Regions from separate parts of the Homo sapiens genome. Here region 1 is linked to region 2. The links come from fine-mapping of genetic effects on gene expression. A gene starts in region 2. The other region holds a variant in brackets. All regions are shown on one strand. Distances are between the middles of the regions. Region 1 overlaps CRTC3 (CREB regulated transcription coactivator 3). Region 2 holds the start of UNC45A (unc-45 myosin chaperone A).

Region 1 (5,379 bases), 390 kb after region 2:
CCTCAGGAGGGATCCAAGGCATTCCTCAGATTTTCAAAGTGAAGGCATTCTTCTAGCTCTTCACTATCTTTCTCCAACTCCTGGGCTCAAGCAATCTGCCCGCCTCGGCCTCCTAAAGTGCTAGGATTACAGGCGTGAGCCATGGTACCCAGCCTGCCTGATAGTATATCTAATAGTTATTAAAAAGGCTTTAAAATTTTCAAATAGCTGGATTTTTAAATTTAAATTTAATTATTAATTGCAATTTTATTAATTATGTTCAGATTCAATTTCTCCTTTTTTAATTTACTGAGAATTTATTTGGCCCAGTATGTGATCAATTTACACTACACACACACACATACACACACACACACACACACCATGAACAAAGAGTGAAAACAACCCAAACAATAAGGGGGCAGTGAAACTGTGGCATATCCATGTGACAGAATAGCATGTAGTCACTAGAAATACTGTTTCTGAAAACCATTGAACACATAGAAGGAAAATACAAAACTATACATACATATGAGGCTGATTTTGTTAAAAAATATTTATAGTCACTGCAAAACTACTGAAAGAAAAGGCCAAATGGTGAAAAAAGATGTAACCAGTTTTCTGTAATAAGCAAGTGTTACATTTATAATCAGAAAAAGAAGTATTGCTTTTAAAATGAGTCTAGAAATATCTAGAAAGGTATCTTACCTTTTTAGAGAATAAACTCTAGGGAATAAATTTTGGTATACAGTAATTCTGATTTGTTAATGGTGTAACTCTTTATTATCTTTATTTTGAATATTGGCTCAGTCGTAGTGAATTAAAAATCTAGAATTGTGCTATTGTCGAATTCTCATTTCTTGGAGTTTTTCCTTTTTGCAATTTGTTGCTATGTTGTTTTATCACATAAAAGTCATATAATGCTATGACAATTACCATCTACATAGAGAGCTTAACACAGTGTCTGGCACATAGCACATACTCAATAAATGTCAGCTGTGGTTAGTAGTGGTATTTTGAGATTAATACTGCTACTTAGGTTTTCTTTTGTTTAACTGATGTATCTTTTTGCCAATCTTTTTTTTTCCTTTAAAGAACCTTATGAAAACTTGAAAGGAAATGCAGTAAAGGAAAACCATGGAAATGGAACTGGAAGTCAAAGACATGATTTTTAAGTCCTGGTTCTCTTACTTACTTGCTATGCGAACTCTGGGCCTCATTATACTACTCATATTGGTAGTGGGCCCCAGGAAAACCACCTTGCTGGACCTGGCCCTCCAGGCCTTTGCAAACTGCCTTGGTATAAGGGTTTCTTCCCTTGACCATCAGATTGTTCCCTAAATTAGAACTTAAAAGCCCTCAGTTACACATGACATGATGCAATTTTGTTAAAATGTAGTTAATCAGAGATGTAAAAAGTACAATTAGTTTTTAGTGATATGATTTGAAAGGACTAGGGTAGGTTATATAAAGGATACGAGGCTGGGAGTGGTGGCTCACACCTGTAATCCTACCACTTTGGGAGGCCACGGCGGGTGGATCGCTTGAGCTCAGGAGTTCGAGACCAGCCTGGGCAACATAGTGAAACTCTATCTCTACAAAAATACAAAAACTGGCCGGGTGTGGTGGCTTACGCCTGTACTCCCTGCTACCCTGGGGGGCTGAGACAGGAGGATCCCTTGAGCCCAGGAGGTGGAGGTTGCAGTGAGCCAAGATCACATCATTGCGCTCCAGCTGGGTGACCTTGAGACCTTGTCACAAAAAAAAAAAAAAAAAAAAGGATACGAAAAGCTACAACTATACCTACAAAGCCCTATACAGAGAGAAGCCCTTTGTCCCTCTCTCTACAGCTGCCTGACAAGCCATTCAGTCAACATGTGCCCTAGCTGTTACACAGGCTGGAACATGCTATCCCTCCACTAAGCAGAAGAGACAGCCCTAGCCCTCGCTCTCAGAGAAGAAGATAATGCCCACTTCCTCCTCTCTGCCCTCAGTGTATGTGTGCCAGGCCCTGCCTAGAGACATGAGGGCTATAACCCTAGCTACCCCTTTACTGATGGTCTGCCCCTTGCTAAAGATTATCAGAAGGCAGCCTGAAAAGTTGGCTTTTGTTTACTCATCTGATAAGTCTACGTTCTTTGCATAAGGGCTCATTGGGTTAGAAAAAAAGAATGCACTTTGAGATCCTCCATTAGGATAGAAAATTGGTCTTTAGTATATTAAAATAGTACTACACTTACCAACCAATGTTGTAGTAAGAGGATGAAGTAAAATAACAGATATGAAAGCATTTTGTAAACTCCAAAGTGATTTACAAACATAAAAGGAGTAGACAGGAAGAACAAGTTCAAGATATCTATAGTACATCATGATTGCTAAAGTTAATAACAATGTATCATATATTGCAAATTGCTGAGAGCAGATTCTCACCACAAAAGAAATGATAATGATGTGAGAGGATGCATATGTTTGTCTGATTTAGCCATTCCACAAGGTATACATTTATGAAAATATCGTATCGTATACCATAAATATATACAATTTTGTCAATCAAAA[A/G]TATATCAATATAATAAAAATAAAAGGAGAATTGTATATAAATGATTATAAGCAACTGAACTTCAATAAAAATCTGTTTTTCTGTACATGGAAGTCTTCTTCGTGGAAGACTCCATATTATAAAGATGTCAATTATCCCCAACCTATCTATAGATTCAATGCAATCCTGTTTAAAATCCTAGCAGGTGTTGGCCGGGCGTTGTGGCTCACGCCTGTAATCCCAGCACTCTGGGAGGCCGAGGCGGGTGGATCACGAGGTCAGGAGATCGAGACCATCCTGGCTAACACAGTGAAACCCCGTCTCTAATACAAATACAGAAAAATTAGCTGGGCGTGGTGGCGGGCACCTGTAGTCCCAGCTACTCAGGAAGCTGAGGCAGGAGAATGGCATGAACCCAGGGGGCAGAGCTTGCAGTGAGTGGAGATCGTGCCACTGCACTCCAGCCTGGGCAACAGAGTGAGACTCCGTCTCAAAAAAATAAAAATAAAATCCTAGCAGGTGTTTTTATAGACATTAACAAGCTGATTCTAAAATGTTATGGAAAAGCAAAGGAATGAAAATAAGCAAAACAGCTTCAAAAAAGAACAAAGACGACTCTCATTACCTAATTCCAAGCCTTCCTATAAAGGTACAGTAATCAAGACAGTGTGGTATTAGCAAAATGATAGACAAAGAAACCAATGACACAGAAGATGGTATTAGCAAAATGATAGACAAAGAAACCAATGACACAGAAGAGTCCGGAAATAGACCCACATGTATATGGTCAATTGATTTTCAACAAAGGTACCAAGGCATTCAATAGGGAAAAGAAAGTCTTCATCAAATGGTTCTAGAACAATTTAACATCCCTATGCAAAATGAGTGAGCCTCAAACCCAAACCCTGTACCACACAAAAAAATTAACTCATAATTTACTTAAGTGTAAAAGACAGAGCTATAAAACTAATAGAGAAACACATAGAAAAAAAACCTTCGGGAACTTGAGTTAGATGAAGAACTCTTATTAATAGATAAGACAAAAGCACAAATCATAAAATAACACAATTGATAAACTAGACTTCAAAACTTAAAACTTCTACTCTTCGAGACTTGAGAAAATGAAAAAACAAGCCACAGACTGGGAGAAAATATTTGCAAAATACATATCTGATAAAGAACTGGTATCCAGAATATATAAACAACTCTCACAACTGATTAAGAAAATTAACAACTCAATTTAAAAACTAGACAAGGCCAGGCGCAGTGGCTCACGCCTGTAATCCCAGCACTTTGGGAGGCCAAGGCGGGCGGATCACAAAGTCAGGAGATGGAGACCATCCTGGCTAACACAGTGAAACCCCGTCTCTACTAAAAATACAAAAAAAATTACCCGGGCGTGGTGGCAGGTGCCTGTAGTCCCAGCTACTTGGGAGGCTGAGGCAGGAGAATTGCTTGAACCCAGGAGGCGGAGGTTGCAGTGAGCCGAGATCGTGCCACTGCACTCCAGCCTGGGCGAAAGAGTGAGACTCCATCTCAAAAGTAAAAAAAAAAAACAAACAAAAATTAGCCAGGTGTGGTGGGGCGCGCCTGTAAACCCAGCTACTCAGGAGGCTCAGGCAGTAGAACTGCTTGAACCTGGGAGGCGGAGGCAGCAGTGAGCTGAGATCACGCCACTACACTCCAGCCTGGGCGACAGAGCGAGATTCAGTCTCAAAAAAAAAAAAAAAAATTAAAACCACAATTGTCATATGATTCAGCAATCCTACTTCTGAGTATGTACCCAAAAGAATGGAAAGCAGAGCCTTGAAGAGATATTTGCACACCCATGTTCATAGCAGCATTATTCACAATAGCCAAGAGGTGGCGGCAACCCAAGTATCCATTAGCGGATGAATGGAACAAAATGTGGCATCCACATACAATGAAATGTTACTCAGCCTTGAAAAGGAAGGAAATCATGTCACAGACTATAACACGGGTGAACCCTGAAGACATTATACTAAGCACAAGCCAGTCACAAAAAAGACAAATAGTATATGATTTCCCTCATATGAGGCACTTAGAATAGTCAAAGTCATAGAGACAGAAAAAACAGTAGTTGCCAGAGGCTGGTGGGAAGGGAACATGGAGAATTCTTATTGAATGGGCATAGAATTTCAGTTTTGTCAGATGAAAAAATTCTGGAGATTGGTTGCACAATATGAATGTATGTAATACCACTGAACTATACATTTAAAAATGGTTTTAGAAGATACCAATAAACTACTTTAAAAAATGGTTAAGATGGTAAATTTTATGTTCTGTTTTTTAACCACCATTTTTTTGAAACTCTGAAATACCAAGTGCTAGAGCAGATACAGGGTCGCTGGAACTCTCATGCACTGCTGGTAAGAATGTGAAACAGTAGAGCCACTTTGGAGAACAGCTTGGCGATTTCTTATAAAGCTAAAGTTAATATACACTTACTGTATGATCTAGCAATTCCACTACTAGCTACTTACATAAAAACTGTATGTGAATGTTTATAGAATATTTATTCATAATTGCCAAAAGGTGGAAACAACCCAAATGCCCATCAACTAACTGATGAATGCATAAATTATCTACATCCATAGAATGGAATTCTACTCAGCAATAAAAAGAAATGAACTACTGATCAATGCAATGTAGTGGGTTAAATTATGGCCACCAAAAGAGATATCTTCAAGTCCTAAGCCCCAGAACCTGTGAATATGACTTTATTTGAAAACAGAATCTTTGCAGATGTAATCAAGCAAAGGTGAGATCATATTGAATTAGGGTAGGCCCTAAATCCAATGACTAGTTCTTTATAAGAAAAAGGAGAGGAAGATTTAAACACA
Region 2 (5,379 bases):
ATGTAATCCCAGCACTTTGGGAGGCCGAGGCAGGCAGATCACAAGGTCAGGAGCTCCAGACCATCCTGGCCAACACAGTGAAACCGCATCTCTACTAAAAATACAAAAAATTAGCCGGGCGTGGTGGCAGGCCCCTGTAGTCCCAGCTACCTGGGGGACTGAGGCAGGAGACTCACTTGAACCTGGGAGGCAGAGGTTGCAGTGAGCCAAGTTCGCACCACTGCACTCCAGTGTGGGCGACAGAGCAAGACTCCGTCTCAAAAAAAAAAAAAACAATTATTTTCCTTTGTATTTACATACCCAAGTGTACCCACAGAAAAAATATAGCATTGTTTTGCTATGTAGGGGATCATTAACATAAATGATATTATACTATATGTGTTATTGTATATTTTTCTTCTTCTTTTCTTTTTTGAAAGAGACAGGGCCTCACTCTGTCAGCCAGGCTGGAGTGCAGTGGCACGATCATAGCTCACTGTAACTGCAAAATCCAGGGCTCAAAGGACTCTCCTGCCTCAGCCTCACAGGTAGCTGGGACTACAAGGGTGTGCCACCACACCCAGCTAACTTTTTAGGTTTTGGTAGCAACAGGGTCTCACTATGTTGCCCAGGCTGGTCTCAAACTCCTGGCCTCCAGTGATCATCCCATCTTGGCCTCCAAAAGCACTGGGATTACAGGCATGAACCACCATGCCCTGCCTATTTTGCTTTGTTCATTCAACAAGTGTCCCAGAGCTTCCCATTTCAATATGTGTGTATCTACCTATTCTCAGTAACTATATAAGAGTCTGTAGTAAGGACATTACCCATTTATTCAGCCATTCCTCTATGGCTGGGCATTCAGGCAAGTTCCAAGTTTTTCTTACTACAAAAAAGGCTGAAATAAACATACACATGTCTACTTGTGCACGTGGACAAGGTTTCTCTGAGAGAAACAGCAAGAAGTAAACATATGGGATCACAAGATACGCTCATTTGAAATTGAATAGATATGCTAAAGTACTCTCGAAAAGAGCTGTACCAATTTATACCCCTCCAGCAGTCATCAGAGAGCCCTTGGCCCCCAGCCTCACCACTGATGTGTCTGCCTCTCTCCTTCTCGAAAAGTGTACAAACTTTTAAATATCTGCCAGACAGACCTCCAAATCAACAGTAATGTGCTGTCATCTTAATTTGCTTTTCCCTGGCCACAGGCAAGGTTCACTTGCCACCGGGATCTCGTCTGGAGAACTGTGTCTACACCCCTGGCCCAGACCCCTTCACCACCAGTCAATGCTTCCACCTCTCTGGGTCACTCACATACCTTCTCCTGAATCTGGCCCCCGATGTTCCGCAAGGCCTCCTGGAAAACTTTGTTCTTGGGCTCCAAGCTCACACATCTCTGCAGGTCAAGGACAGCCTGGTCCAGGCGGCCCAGCTTCTCTAGGGCTTGGCTCCGCCGGTAGAGTGCTTTGACATCCCCACCATCCTTTTCAATGGCTGAGCACAAACAGGAGCGCTGTCAGCACCCATGAGGCCACTGTCTCCAGGCAAGAGCAGTAGGGAAAGATCTCGAGGAAAGGCCAGAAGAAGGTGGGGGGGACGAATGTGGGGCTCGGTGCTTCAGCCTCAGAAAAGGTGAGGGTAGCTGCAGAAAAGGAAAGGCCCGAGGCAGTGGGAAAGAAAGAAGGCAGATGTGTCTCTGGGGCCAAAGGAGGAGAATGTGACGGTGCAGCGGTCCCAGAGTCCTTGCCCACCACAGAAGCCCTACAGCTCCACACCAGGGCCCACCATTCCCCTACCTTTGGATGCCTCTGTTTCTGCTTTGTCGTAATCTTCCTGTAAGAGAAAGACAGGAGCCTGAAGGAATGGTCATCTCCCTCTCGGGGCACTAACCAGGCAGCAGGGGTACTCTCGCTCTCCAAGGTCACCCGATCCCCCACCACCCTGAGGTGCAAAAAACATCTGGCAAGCGGGGATGGCCTGGGAGCGTGAATGTCCAGCTGGGGCCCAAGCATCAGCTTAGATGGGCGAACCGGGGCCCGGGCGGGCGAGGGGAAGAGCGCCAGGCTCCCTCACCAGCTTGAGGTGGCAGGCGGCCCGGTTCCGGTGCAGAACGGCCTGGTCCTGGGGCGTCGCGTCCAGACCCAGGGCCTGAGTGTAGGCCGCCAGGGCGCCCCCGTAGTCTCCACATTTGAACAGCTCATTGCCCTCCTTCCGCAGCTGCTCCACTGAGCTGGCCTGTAGAGAGAAAGGGGGCGGAAACGTCGGAGGGGGTTCGGGGCAGAGCCCGGGAGCTAAGGGGAGAGGAGAGGAGGGATCGGGGCGAGCCTCATGGATGGGGAGAAGGAGGCCAGGGATGGTCAGGGCGGGTGCGAAGGGGTGATGGCGCGGGGGTTGGGTACGCACCCCGGGGGTGGCCGGCCGGGGCTCGGGGGTCCCTGGACCACTCACAGTCATCGCGGAGAGGTTGTCTCGTGCCCGCGCAGGCGCAGTCTCTGGGGCGGGGCGAGTCTGGGTTCGGGACGCCACCGGCAGCTGCCCCGCCCCACTCTTGCGTCGGAGGTGGGGTCAGAGAGGGGCAGGGCTAAGGAGGGAGCGCGCCCGGGCAGGGGCGGGGCGCTTGGCTCTGGATCGCAGGTGCAGGCAAGCTCCGGGCGCACCTAAGCTGTCCCCGCAGAGACCTGCAGGGAGCTCGCGGCGGAGGACCCAGAGGGAGGCCTGCGGTGGCTCCAGCCCAGACTCCGGCCCCGACCGCAGCAGAAGTGCACGAGGTCTACGGTCATCAGGGTCACAACCAGTAGGTTGTAGAGGCCCAGCACTAGGAGCGGGCCTGGGCCCCTGCGGGAGAGAAAAAGTATCTGGATCCCGGCCCCGACCGCGCTCTCGCTGCTGCGCTCTGTGGGGGGTACAGAATCCCTGGGAGTCCGGAGAAAGCTCAGGACTCCCTCCCCAAATAAGTGTCGTCTTACATACACACATTTGCATACGAATTTAGGAGCTCATCCTAGAGCCACCCATGGGCAGATTCAGGATGGCTCCCCATTACCAGCTTGCACAGCCCCCTGAACTTCTCCTTTGTAATTGTAATCATGATCTACATGATTTTCTGTTGCGGTCTGTCCCTTCACTAGTCTGTAAGTTACAAGCCTACCACCCCATAATTTAGGAACAGAGCCCCAGATACTGGAACACCCTGTCGATGTTCCAGTGGCTCTGGGGTTGGAGATCTCACCTGAGGATGGGCGGGGGCGGAAGAGCGGACAGATTGACTTGGTACAGGGCCTCAAATTCAGCCCGGGTGCAGCAGGAGCCCCCTGCAGCCTGCAGGTGGCAGCAGTAGGCTTCCTCTGGAGAATCAGACAGACGAGGGCAAAAGAAACCAGGGTAGTGACGGCCATGGACATCCCGGGTGGTCTGGCACAAGTGAGGGTGGTGGACCAGAGCTGAAGAGAGAGGTGGGGGTGCTAGAGACAAGCAGGAGGGGCCTTTCCACAGCTCACTCCACCCCTACTGGAGAGTAAAAGAGATCAGCCCCTACCAGAAGAAAAGATGCCCTTCCACCCATCCCCATCAGTTCCAGTTCCCAGGAATAGCCCATAGCACCAGAGGCAGGTGGGCCACAGGGGTAAGTGCTGTACCTGAGAGAGAGGTTGGCTGGACAAGGGTCACCCAGCTGAAGAGCAGCAGTAGCCCCACAGATAGGCCTGTCAGCAAGGGGCCTGACCTTCTCTGGATGCCCATGAGAGTTCACTACCACCTCTGTCCTGGTCCTGGGAACCCCAACATCTCTCTTTCTAGGCCGTGACTGCAGACAATAAGGAAATAAAAGTCAAAGCCCCAAGGCCCTTGGGCACCATTAATACGAGCCTGAAGCTTCTCTATCACAGGCTTTTAGAGAGAGATGACAGGGACTGGGTTTCTGTCTCCTGTTGGAAAACGTGGGGCCTGCATTGCCAAACTGCTGAAGGAGAGAAGGCTCAAAGGACTAGAGGACAGAATGAGGGATGAGAGAGCAGCTGAGCCATTAGTATGAAGAACAAACAAGCATTTACAGCCAAATATGTTTCTACCCATTCTCCAACTTCCAGGCTGCCATGGAAGCTCTGGGAATTCTGACCCTCCTATTTCAGGTCCCAGAGACCTCAGTTCCAGCATGTGGGGCTTCCCTCCCTAACCTCTGCTACGTGGCAACCACCAAGACTAGCTGAAAACCAAGGGTGACTCCTTTCATTAGCCTTTCCCCTGAGCCTTATCTGCCCCAGCTACCAGCCAGAACACAAAAGCTACATGTCTGATTAGAGTATACTTAGCTAATAGGGAACCCCCTCTCACAGAGAAGTTCTATGGGGATCACCAGGTCTCTCTTACCCCTCAGCTGCCCCTAAGGCAGGGAATTTCTCCAGAAGGCCACCAGCCAGCAGAATTAAGTGTTATTCCAGTGCCTACCCAGGCCTGACAACATCATGCTCCCAGGACAGCAGTGACAACACTCATCACCCCAGGGGCCCACAGAAGATGCCTAGAGACTGAAATAGGAGCTCTCATAGCATAAGAAGACAAGGCAAATTTCATCTGCAACACTGAGGACAAACAAAGGCAGTTCCTGCAGAAACGTCACAGCTACCTGGGAGCCTAAGTCTGAAGCAATTAGGCAGGGCTCCCAGGGAAGGCTCTGATTTTTCAGGTCAGGCCCTAGGGTCTCCTGGAGGGTCCAAAGGTAGACTCCCCTGCCCACAGAACCTGGCCCATCCCTACAGGGAGAACTATTTTTAGAACACTTGGAGAATTTTCAGAGCTTTTACAGGTTGAAGATGGTTCTTGGGGGGAGCTTCTGGGAGAAGCTGTCTCTGACTCTGAGGGTGTGGGGATTGTTCTTTCTTCCCGCTCCCATAGTCCCCTGAGCCTTGGCCACCCTGGATTCAGAGCACTGTGAGGCCACTGCCTTATTTCTTGTCTGTCTTCCTCTTTTCCACAGACTGTGGGCTCCCAAAGAGCCAGGCTTATGTTCTTCTTGCACCCCCAACAGAGCACACTGAGCTGGGGGCTGCGATGCTGAAGGCAGCTGTCCACATCACTTGCTCTCTGCGCGGGCCGGTCAGCTCCAGAGGAATTCATCTGGGGCAGGCCCAACTCGGCCCGCTGAATTAGCCTCCACGATCCCCGGGCCTCCCCGGCGCCAGGGGGCGCTGTAAACGTTCCGTCCCTGCCCCTGCGGCCGCAGTCGTCGGCCCCATCCGCGCGATGGGCTCTGAGGCGGCGCAGCTGCTGGAGGCTGCCGACTTCGCGGCTCGCAAGCACCGGCAGCAGCGGCGGAAGGACCCCGAGGGGACCCCCTACATCAACCACCCCATCGGTGGGCGCGTCGGCCGCGGAGCGCCGGCTGCGGCACCTGGGTGG

The links. PIP is the estimated chance that this variant, and not a neighbour inherited with it, causes the effect. A credible set is the group of variants that fine-mapping cannot tell apart.
Region 1: its variant is the best candidate, but not a certain one, in a credible set for the expression of UNC45A in esophagus muscle (GTEx, PIP 0.81).

Annotation. Positions count from the first base shown.
Region 1 is chr15:90,544,269-90,549,647 of GRCh38, reverse strand. All of the region lies in intron 2 of CRTC3 (CREB regulated transcription coactivator 3), which reads right to left. Among named protein-coding and RNA genes, the nearest start is that of CRTC3, 17 kb to the right of the region's middle. The variant A/G (reference allele first, on the strand shown) is at 2,536.
Region 2 is chr15:90,932,385-90,937,763 of GRCh38, reverse strand. UNC45A (unc-45 myosin chaperone A) reads right to left here and starts at 2,479. Exons shown (of 20, transcript NM_018671.5): 1 at 2,389-2,479; 2 at 2,059-2,220; 3 at 1,782-1,818; 4 at 1,304-1,479. The coding sequence starts at 2,439. It overlaps HDDC3 (HD domain containing 3), which reads left to right and starts at 5,215. Exons shown (of 4, transcript NM_001286451.2): 1 at 5,215-5,335. The coding sequence starts at 5,224. RefSeq lists a silencer at 2,264-2,663 and enhancers at 3,294-3,393, 5,018-5,067.